Linked DNA regions of Homo sapiens. The protein of the gene in region 1 interacts with the protein of each later gene in a biochemical or structural test. Each region holds a gene or a part of one and is shown on either strand. Other genes may lie near its edges.

Region 1 (4,539 bases):
CACTGTTGAAGGGAGAAGAACCCTTGTTCAGGAAGCCTTAGAAAGGGATCCTTAAAATAGTACTCTACGCAGACAAGTGAAAATTCTTTTAAACTGGATATTACTCAACATGTTTTCAGATGTTTCCACTACATTGAGGCAAACTTTTTAAAAGTGGAATGCAAATAGCATTTTACTTTAGTATTTCTGCTTTTTTCTTTCTGTTTCTTTGGTAATTGAAAGTTTGTTGATGAATATTTGTGTAAAACGCATTCAAGTCTATAACCTTTCCAATTACCTGTGGCCCTTAGTCCCACAGGAGTCCCTGTTGGAAGGGGGTAAACACTGGATATTAATGTTGCTGAGTGAGTCTTTCTAGCCAGGACAAGCTGATTGGAATTTTTGAATGGTAGAGAAGAAACAGCACAAAGGCACTTGCCATTTTAAGTGTTTGGAGAAAGAGAACCTTTTAAGTTTGGATTGGGTGAGCTTTCTTCTAAAAGGAGCTTCTGAAGTAATTGCAAAGGAATAGAATCGACTATTTTTATAGTATATTTAATATATTTGTATATAACTATAATAGGAACCCTCTACATGCCTCCCACTTTTCTAATTTACTTCCCCTTTTGCCATAGCACTAGTATAGCCTCATCCGCATGGGTAATGTGCCTATTGTCAGCCTACCAAAAGATAGTGCTGCTGCTTTATGAGACAGGTGAGAAGACCCAACTCTCATGCCTGGGGATCCTTTACGGAAGGAATAGCACACACTTTTAAAACAACATACCACAGTCTAAAAGCATCATTTTGAAATGTAACAAGCACTTTATTGCAATTACTCATTTTGATAAAGTTTATTCTTAGGCGTTAACCATTTCTAAAGGATCCCCAAATCATCACTTACTTAGGTGAAATTATATAAAATGACACATTTCTGAGAAATGTTTAGGTCCAGTGAACCGTAGTTGGTTTATGGGAGTGATTTCAAGATAGCCAAATGAACTTTGATTTTTGTTTTGAATGTGGTGGAGTCAAGAGATTGTAGATGCCTAGTTTGATTTAAACACTATTGTAAACCTATCTTGCCTATTGTGTGGACACCAAAAGAGACCAATGAGCCTGTTTATTTTTCAGAGGTCTAGGAAAATTGCATCCGTGTGAGTAGATGTACAGAACTAATCTAAAAGTGATTGCTAGTAACATTTTAGAATATAATAATTTCAAGAATTATTCTGAGTGTTTTAAATGTGCCCTGAAATGTTGGCATGTCATTTCAGCATTTCCATTTGAATTGCTCTTGTAATATTTTTGCACAAAAAGGACTGAGAAAAAGAATACTTTGGTTAAAGGAAAAAAATAGTATAATTTGGTCTTTAATTTTAATGTCTCCTGTGGAAACACTGGGGATGAATTTTGTTGGCACAGTTATTCAGGATATTTAAAACAGTGTTGAACAGTTCACAAGAAATTAAGCAAACTTGGATTTTAAAAATTAAAATACTTTCTTTCCATGTGACTGTTTTGCATAGTTTTTTCCCCCTATGTCATAACACTACATTCCTTGTTTTTCTTAAATAAAATACTCTGCAGGTTTTGTTGTGAGTGTTTATAACAGTATTTTGTAAGCTGCCTGGGTTTCCTCAGGGAAACATTATTTAGTGGAATAGGATATAGTTTATGGAGAGACAACTAAGTGAAATTCCATCACCACCACCAGCAAACACTGAGGTGCTGCATTAAGTGACAATCAAACTAGTAAGTATTTATGAAAGAATTTAGAAAGGGGTTCAAAGAAGCAATTGCTTTTAAAGCAGTTCTCTGGGGTTCTTGAATAAAAATGGCTAAATGTATTTATTTATATTTTAAAATACCTGTGTGTTCTGTTTTCTCATCAAAGTGATTTCGGTGTCATGTATTTAATGTGTGGTTTGTTTTGTTTTGCACCATATTCTTCTTAGGGAACTGGCTCTGATTTGGGGTGCAGTCACCAACTCTCATGATAATCTTTACGGACAGTCTGAATCTACTTTACTTCAGGACGGCAGTGGAGGGGCCAACTCCAGATGCCCCTGCACTTCCCTCCTCAAGTCATCTAAGAAAGAATTTTAGAAATAACTCCTTTCAAATCTGATTCATACAGTTCCAACCTTTTTCTAGTTTCACTTGCTGCCTTCTTTGTTTTATGGGCACTTTTTGTGTGATTACTTCCCCAACACAGTCAAAGGCCAGTATGACAGAACCAATGGCACATGATGCCTCTATTTTGCCCATTTGGGGAAATGTTAGTAAAAGAAATAGCATCTTTTAATGGCTGTCATTATCATATCCATATTAAAATCCATTTAAAGTTCTTAAATTTGGCGGAATAATGTATACAGGCTGTAAACTTCTACAAAAAATGTTTGCTGTCTTTAATATGGTGTCAAGTTACTTGGTCCTTTGAAAACAAAACAAAACTTCCATACACAGCACTGCCCAGTAAAGCAGTGTTGGAATATTGGAAACCTAGACATTTGAGGATCCTTCTTGCTCACAAGCATTGGAACAGAATCCTCCACTTTAGGACTCAGAGAAGCTATGGAGTCCCACAGGCTAGGTATAGCACACAACTTAGAGAACGGTAGTTAAAGCACGTCAACCACAATTGAATTTAATGATCTAAAAAATATTTCTTAACTCTGAGGGTTAAACTGAAGATACGTTTTCAAATAAAAGCTTTTAAATTTCTTAGGAAACAAACTGTGACATCGCTTTTAAAAATGACATTCAAATGTTTATAATGTGTGTTTTTGAGTTGGCTTGGACTAGTGCAAGTTCACTGCTGGCAATGGTTATGCCAGTAGTTAAGTTAAAATAAGTTGTTACCTTCAGATTGATGTCTTGTATAACCAGACAATCATCTTCAAGCAAAAAAATTGGCCAGGAAATGTCTTTTTAAAAAAAAAAAAAAAAAAAAAGATGTGTCAGCCAGAACAGTTACCATTCAGACCATACTGGAATGATTTTGAAATCTTTACTATGGTTTAAGTTGGGGAAGGCCTCAGTATGGCATTTTCATATTCACTCTATGTAAAGATTGAAGCCCAAAGATGAGTTAAATTCAGTGCTGTATTGAAACCAGTCAGTGCAAAAAAAAAAAAAAAGTTTTACCTTTGTAAATTTTTCATTGTTAACATCAGTTGGTAGTTGTTAAAACATGCACCAAATTCTTTATAATGTTCTGTGTGGTTCTCAATGTGATATTCTTGACATTGCTGTCCTTACTGCTTGGTTCTTGGTTTTAAATTAAAAAGTAGATGTAGCTCATCATTTTTACTTCCAAAACGGTGGAGCTAAAAACGGCTAATTGATCTTGAGATAAGAATACCCTTTACTAAGGCAAAGATTTAATTGAAATCCAAAATGATTTATAGAAACGAAAGGCATTTTCCATTTGTTGTCTTCTGCCGAAATTCTGAATTGCATACACACATGAAGGATAATGAATGGTTTCAACGGTGCTATATTAGGTTCTCTGATTTTCATGACCTATGTATGTTTGGAAATACAATATTGTATAAAATGTGGATCGTTTTGTTACCGATTTAATATTGCCATTTTAATTTGGTGTAACAATTGGTTACACTTGTTTTTCAAAGCTATCCTTTGAGGAGAAAGTCAAAATGTGTTGTTAGCCTACCTCCACTCAGGCCTCTTGCTGTGTAATCATTATTCCAGGTTATGATGTGCATAGCTTTTAAAACTGCGTGTACTATTATTCTGCTCTTTCCCATACTCTTGTCATGTATTCAGAACCTAAACTTATAGCAAAAGAGCCAAGCAGTAGCAGTTTTTGTAAATGTAAAAATAATTAGATCCAGACTTTGTTTCCTTCAATTTTAAAAATAAAAAATACCTCAGTGCTATGTTTTTCAGTTATCACCTGCATTTCTCAAAAAATAACACCTGCTTCATGTGGCACATAACTTGTAAGAATCACATTTTGGATTTTAAAGAAAGACTATTAAATATTTTAAGATCACTATCAATGACATTTCCCTTTCTTTTATTCAACAATGGAGCCTATTGCAGTAGCGATTTTTACCTTATAGCTTAGGTCTGACTTACCAAAAATTCTCAGAGGAATTATGTCCTGCTACAAGATTGTGGTGCCTCAGAATGCGATGCTGTTCTTATTCGCATATGAAGCTAGTAATGGGACCAAGCTACCTGAACTGAGGTTACACGATGATGGTGCCAGCTACTCCCTACGAGGAATTGTCTTTTCTGTTGTTATTAGAAAAAACGGTTGGGTGCGGTGGCTCACGCCTGTAATCCTAGCACTTTGGGAGGCTGAGGTGGGTGGATCACCTAAGGTCATGAGTTCAAGACCAGCCTGGCCAACATGGTAAAACCCTGTCTCTACTGAAAATACAAAAAAATTAGCCAGGCGTGGTGGCGGGCACCTATAATCCCTGCAACTTGGGAGGCTGAGGCAGGAGAACTGCTTGAACTCAGGAGGCAGAGGTTGCAGTGAGCCGAGATTGCGCCACTGCATTCCAGCCCAGGTGACAGAGTGAG
Region 2 (7,032 bases), on another chromosome or scaffold:
CAAATGAGGAAATCAAGACGAAGAGGGAAGAAGGAACGTGCTCCAAGTCACAAAGTCCATGTGGCAGAGAAGACCCGGGCTGTGAGCATGCCATTGCCCAGGCCCACTGTCTGCAGGGGCCTGGAGACCAGCTCTACGTTGCCGCTAAGGGGTGACGCCCCCTGTGATCCCAGCCTCAGGAGAAGGTGGGTCACACAGGACAGAGGGGTGGATGGCTCTGACCTTGTGCCCAGGAGACTGAGGGGAGGGAAGAGGAAGGCCCCACTGCCCTTCCAGTCCTCACCCCTCCACTGGGCCCGGGATGGTGCGGTGGTGCTGCCTGCCAGGCCCGCCTTGCCACTGTCTGTGCCCAGAGTGACCTGGCACCCCTGACGAAGGCCCCGCCTCCCTGCCCTACACCTCGACCTTGATCCTGGGCAGAAAGTCCATGAAGGGGTGGGGTAGGGGCAGCTCCACCGCCTCCCGTGGACTCTGCTCACGGTCAGAGCTGTTTTCCTCCCTCCGGGTGGGGAGAGGGCGAGAAGCCATCCAATAGCCTTGCACTCACACAGGGGGCTCCCGGGCAAATGGCGCCTAAGCTGCCCACAGGGAGAGGCAGGGACCAAGGCAGGACCACAGGGCACTACAGGGACAGACCAAGGGGTATAGGAATAGGTGGTAGGGAAGGGCCCCAGCCGTTCCTCCCAGTAGTGGACACACCCTGGGAGCCAGGGCCCCGAGGTGGGGTACCGCACATGGGCGCCGGTAGGAGTCACACTCCAGACCTGGGCAGGAAGGAGAGGGGACATCAGGCCAGCTGGGGGCGGCCAGGCTGCAGCGAGGCCCACCCCTAGCCTGAGCTCCTCCCAGGGTTAATTATTCCCAGGCCAGCTGACCATAGCCTCATGCTCACAGGGGTCCCCACCAGCACAGACCTGGAAGCCAGCCAGCAAGGGGCAGGCCAGAGGAGCCTGGTCACACAGTCAGACCCTCAGAAACCCTCCAGGGAAGCCCCTACTTACGCCCGCACGGGCATCCCTTCCCCATACCCTTGGCTAGAACCAGATCCCCCTGGAAAGAATCCATCCATTCTCTCTGCCTTGATTCCTTCCCCACTTCCCACCCAACAAACTCCTACTCATCCCTCAAAACCCAACTACATCACCTCCTCTGTGAAGCTTCCCTGACCTCCCCCAGGCAGTTTATGGGTGAGACAACTGAGGCCTAGTGAGGTGAATTTGCTAGCCCAGGGCCATACAGCCTGTGACTCAGAGGGGCGCTCACTCATCGCATGGGGCAGCCTACCTCACCAGTTAGTTTTAGACATGAGAAAATCAGTGAGAGGTGCCTAATGAGGTGGGAGAGGCTACAGAGCCACATGACACTAGGTGGAGGCCTGGCCTCCATCCTGGGGACAATGGGGTGCCATGGAAGGTTCCAGGCAAGGAAGGTCAGTGCCCAAAGAGAGAAGGACTAGCCTGGCCTTGAGTGATAACCGTCATGGGGACTGACCCCACTCATCTGTGGCCCCTACTGCCTCTGCTCTGCCATGCCCCCAGGCCACCTCTTCCCCATTATAAGCTGCACATCCCGAAAGCGCTTCACCACAACATGCCCAGTCCACATCCAGACCCACACCCACCCTGGCTAGCTCAGAGCCCACGGCTTCCTGGACGCCAGCAACCCAGGCCCTACCCCAGCCCAAGTCCTGTCCCCTCAGCTGGGGAGGGCATAGAGCCATTTCCCAGGGAGCTGGTCCCCAGGGTGCCACCCTGACCAATGGCCAACAGCATATCAGAACAAAGCCAGGGTGCCAAGAAGGCAAGGCAGAGGCTTTGACAGCCAGAGGGCCCCAGGGAAACTGAAGCCCACAGAGGGGAAGGGACCTGCCCAGGGCTACACAGCAGCCTGGTCAGAGAGCAGCCCCACCATGTAGAGAGCTGAGTTCGAGGGACGGCTCAGCACACACTGCCACCGCCACAGCCCATGCTATCACTGCGGCAGTCAATGACACTGCTGCCCAATGCCCAGTCCTATTTCTGAGGAGCAAACTGTCACCTTGGTGGCCCTCTGCACACCAGGCCTGGGTTGACAGGAAACCAGGAGCTGGATGCGGCCTGCCAGCCTCTCTCCAAGGTACCAGATACATCCTCCCCAAGCACAGGCACTGAAGCCACTGCTGACAGGCAGGAGAGGTGCTTCTGATCCCACTCTCTAAGTCAAGCGAGTCCTTCCTGCATACCTGTACTGGGTGCTGCAAGGATGCCCTCGCCTCAGAAGGGCCCTGCCCTCAGGAAGCCTGGGAAAAAAGAGGCTGGATGGGTGGCTGGCACGTGGAGAGCTCCCATCCGCCAGGCACCTCCACCAGCAGCGGCCTCAACACCTAACACAGGCGTGGGATCACTCCACGGCCCTCAGGCGGGAGGAAACTGGGCAATAGTCAGGCACAGACCCAGCAGGCTTGCCAGCGGGAGCTGAATGCAGGCTCTGGGCACCAAGTCCAAAGCTGCAGCCCCACCCCAAGCCCTGTACCAAGGGGGCTGCTGGGCACCAAGGATGGCAGGTGGGCTCTGGCTGGGAAGGAAGGCTGAGCCTGCACAGGTGGAGAGGGAAGAGCAGGCAGCGGGAGTCCCGGCAGAGGCACAGGGCTGCCCAGGCCCGAGAGCGCCCGATTCAGAGGGGCTCGGACACAGCAGCTGTTGGGAGCCCACCCCAGCGACTCCAGCCACCTGTGCTGTCACTGCCTGACCTCTGCCCAGGGCCAGTGTGGACACTTAAGCTAAATTGGTCAATTACAGGATACTTAGATCCCTCCCCGGGGCTTCCCAGCCTCACTGCATTCTGGGCTGCAGCACCAGGAAGCCTGTTGAATCAGTAACCTCATTACAGCCGGCGGCCGCACCCGGGGTTGTCTTTGAACTCCGAGGGTTTATCCATGGCGGCTGGAGGATTTACACACGGCCTGGCCCAGGCCCAACTCACTCTCCCCTCCCCTCAGCGCCAGAGGCTCCAGACCCCGCACGCACGGCAGCAGTCTGCGCCGACACCCATCACCCCCAGCCCTGGCCCCGGGTACAGCTGGGGAAACCGAGGCCCAGCTGGAAATTACTATGGCTTAGAGGGCCAACAGAGGTGCGGGGAGGCCAGGCACGGCCTCTGGGTCACCCCAGAGGTAGGACTGTGACCAAGGGCTTCCCGGCATCCCTCACCCCAGCAGGCAGTGCCTGGAAGAGGAGCTGGGGCTGAAGCCTATCATCAAAGACAGATGTGGGCTGTGCAGGACAGACCCCGTGGCAACTTCTCACACAGAGACCCTGAGAGGCTCTGATCCCCTGAAGGACCCCTGAATGTCCCACTCCCCAGCCCCAAAGTCTGGTCCCCTCCATGGTCTCAGCATCCCTGATCCGGCCCCAAGAGGCCCGGCTGCTCTACTCCCCCTGGACGGCCTGCCCCCTACTTCATCCAGAGCCTGGGGAGTGCAGGGGGGGCCGGAGCCAGGGCCAGGGAAAAGGTGCCTCACCCATACCCGTGCCCGGGAAAGACGACCCCCAGGCCAGCCCAGGGACCTGGCCTAAGCCCCCAGGAAGATGCTAGGAATCCTCCCCCCTTCCCAGGCTGCCATGCTGAGGAGCCCAGCCAGGGCAAGGGTGCAAGGCCATTCACAGGGGCCCCAAGGCCCACCTGAAACCAGTGAGCCACCTGGAGAGAGTCACTTCCTCCTTCCAGGCCTTGCCTGGCTGCCTCCAGACCACCCTCTGCACAGCACTGGTGGCCTCATTCCAGCCATGAGCACCACACTGGGATCCCCCAGTCTCCGGGCACCCATGCACCTACGCCCGGCACACAGGCCCTACCCAGCCTCACCTCACACGTGAACCCCCTCCTGGTTCCAGCCCTGCAACCCCACCCTTGCGTCCTCACCCTCTTCACCCCCTCCAGGCCAGACCTTGCTGTCCCTACCTCTGGGCACCCCTCCCCCACCCCTCCTCCACAGGCAGCAGGACCAGGCCAGCACCCAGCGGGCGCTCCCTAAGCCACGTGTGGACAAGCCCACCAGCAATCCCCGCCTCCCCAGCCAGGGTTGTCAAGGCTCTGCCAGGTCACCCTGGGAAGGCTGCGGCGGACGCCTGCATGCATGGGGTGGGCCGCGTGTGCTGGGTTAGGACCTCAGAAAGAACTGTGCCCCTACCCTGCCCTGCCCTGGGACCCGGGGGTCCAATCTCACTCCGTCCACTCCCCCAGGTACCTCAGGAATTTGCTGCAGACAGTGCTGCCCTGGTGGCATGAGGAGGTGGGCAAGCCACAGTTCCAGGCTGGGCCTCTGCTGCTCACCCAACTACAGCTTTCCACCTGGGAGTGGGGACTTCTCCTAGCCACCACCCCAAGCCAAGGACAACCCTGGAGTGAGGATCAAGGGGTCGCCACTCCTTAGAGGGCCTTCAACCAGCACAAGAGGCCAAGATGCCCAGTCCCAGGGCACAGAGCTGGCATGGTGAGACCTCAGCCCTCCACCAGGGTCCCCACTGAACAAAAACCTCACTCACTCGGGCCAAGACCAGCAATGGGGCTCCTGGGAACCAGCATGGGGCATAGACCCAGCCTGGTCGGTGAGCAGCCTCTGAGGATGCTGAGAGGCAGGAGGACCAGGGGCAGCAGAGCCCCCACCCTGGGGACAGGTCCTCCCAGCTGGAGCTCAAGGCGGCCCCCGCCAGTCAAGTGCCGGAGAAAAAGCAGGCCCCACAGCGGGACACAAAGGCTGGCCCACAGACCTCACCCAGGGTTCAGTGTCCCCATCCACTAAGTGGGCTTGTCTCTGTGACACCTCCACAAGGTCCCAAAAATAAAGTCCCTGGCACGCAGCAGGCACCCGCTGCAGCCATCGGCACCTTCGTGGGGGTAGGGTGAGTCCTGGACAAGTTGGGGAGATTTAGAAAAAAAGGAGGCCAACAAACCCAGCAGGGAGCACCATGATCCTTGGGGGACCCCATGAGGCCTGGCTCACTCACGGGCACGCCAGGACACGGGCCAGCGGCCAACAGCGCCAGGTGAGAGCCTGTGACTCTGTGTGTGTGCAACAGTGAGCGTGCACACACCCAAGCCCTGCACGCGGTCCGCACCCGCTCTCCCCACAGCGGCCGGGCCAATTTTCCTTAGCTGCTTTCTGCTCCATTTCACGCTCATTCAGCTGCTGAGCTAGACAATTGCTTTGTAACTCTAGGGCGCAATTTCCCTGTCTGTGAGGCGCTGGGGCACAACTGCTCAGAACATCTCGCACCAGGCTCGGGTGGGTGTGCAAACCGCGGTCCCTCGCCCCACCTGCCTTCTTGGGACTCTGAGGAGGGTCCCTGGAGTGGCACAGGGGCTGGTCCCAAGGACCCAGCAGCAGCGAGCGCTCTCCTGTGGCAGGCCTATATCCACAGAAAGGGCTACCTCAGTGTCCCCGATGTCCTCTATTCCTGAGTCTGTTCCTCTACACCTGACAGCCCCCAGCGACCATCATGGCCTGTTCTGGTCCAGTGCTGGAAACCTGGCCCCACCTGACCCAGGCAGGAGGCACAGAGAGGACCTAGCCACAGGATAGGGGAAACGCCCCACAAACAGACTCCCCAAACTCCCAGCCAGCCTACAACACACCAGGCTGCCTTCTCCAGCATTTGGAAGAGCCAATGAGTATGTCCATTTTTCAGATGGACAGCCAAAGCCCCAAGAGGCCAAAGAGCAGACCAGGCAGGCAGCGAGGACAGAAGGCCCAACCCCAGGTGGCCTGACCACCCGCCCAGCAATGGGACACCACCTGTCAGAACCTCTTCCTGGGAAGGTGCTGATCCCTGCAAAACCACCACCACCTCCATCCTGCAGGTAACAAAGGCCCTGAATGGGAGGGGGCAGAGGAGAGGAAGGAAGGATGAAAGACAGAGCTGCACCCTATAAAATGGAAACATACAGGCAGGTGGGCAAGGTGCAGGGGGGAGGAGGGTGACCCCTCTACCCACACCATAGCACCCTGAAACTGATCAGCTTAAGAATCTCAGGACAAAGGTCTGGAAGGTGACCCCCAAATGGACACCAGCCCCCAACAGCCACAGGCCAGCCCCCCAGGCCCTTGTGGCCCTAGACCCCAGCCTCATCCCTAGCCCAGCAAATGGCCAATTCCTATGAAAACACACCAGTTAACAGGCCAACCCAAGGCCCTGGCCACCAAAGCCAGCTAAAAAACACAAACTCAAGCCTGGCAGAGAAGGGAAGGAGGGGCAGGTCTTGGCTTGCAAAGCCCGGGTCCCAGGGACAGTGTCCCAGCCCTGAGCCAGCTGGGGGTTGGGGAGGGCCTCTGCCCTGTGTCTGCTGGGACAGCTGTGCCCTCTTCTCCAGAGGACAGGCATTGCTCACCACTCGAGGTCCCAGCCCTGAAACATTTGACCCATGGCAAAACCAAACGTCACCCAAGAAAGGAAACTCCCCAGGCAGCCTCCACTGGCACTGGGTGGACCTGTAAAGCTTTCACCCCGCCCCCACACCACCTTCCATGCAGCTGAGGTCTGTCCCACCCTCTCCTGATGCCAGAGCCCCCTGCCACATGCACGACCAGGCCCCAGGGGCAGAGGGGCACACCCCTGAGTACCCCCTGTTCCCACAGTAATTCCACAGCAAATCCTGCAGGCACCCTTTCCCAGGGGAGGAAACAAAGACCACTGACAGCGACCTCCCACACAGCCACGGGGGAGATGGGGCAGGGGCCAAGAGAGGGCAGTCAGAGGGGCCTCCTGGTGGAGGTGAGCCCCCCACAGGCCCTGAAGGACAGGCACAGCTGGAAGAACCACCAGGTGCTGGCAGAGCCGGGAGCCAGTCACAGCAGCTGCCCGCGTGACCAGGGCTGCCGGCTCAACCTGCACCCCACACCCCAAGGGACTCAGAGCACCCGCCCCCCACCAGCCCTTCCTAGGGGCCCAGCTCGTCCCATCCACATCTGGGCAGAGGGTCACAGCTGCATGCTCGGGTCCAGGCCCAGCAGCCAGCCCTAGGCAAGGTTGGAGGCTAGCAAGCCAGGGCCACCAT

The links.
Region 2: the proteins of CLOCK (region 1) and RXRA form a complex in vitro, tested with the Homo sapiens proteins (one study listed by BioGRID).

What each region holds. Positions count from the first base shown.
Region 1 is NC_000004.12:55,427,371-55,431,909, reverse strand, and holds the end of CLOCK (circadian locomoter output cycles protein kaput), read left to right. Parts: 3' UTR 1-4,007; downstream 4,008-4,539. UniProt on the Homo sapiens protein: Transcriptional activator which forms a core component of the circadian clock.
Region 2 is NC_000009.12:134,329,455-134,336,486, reverse strand, and holds part of RXRA (retinoic acid receptor RXR-alpha), read right to left. Parts: intron 1-7,032. UniProt on the Homo sapiens protein: Receptor for retinoic acid that acts as a transcription factor.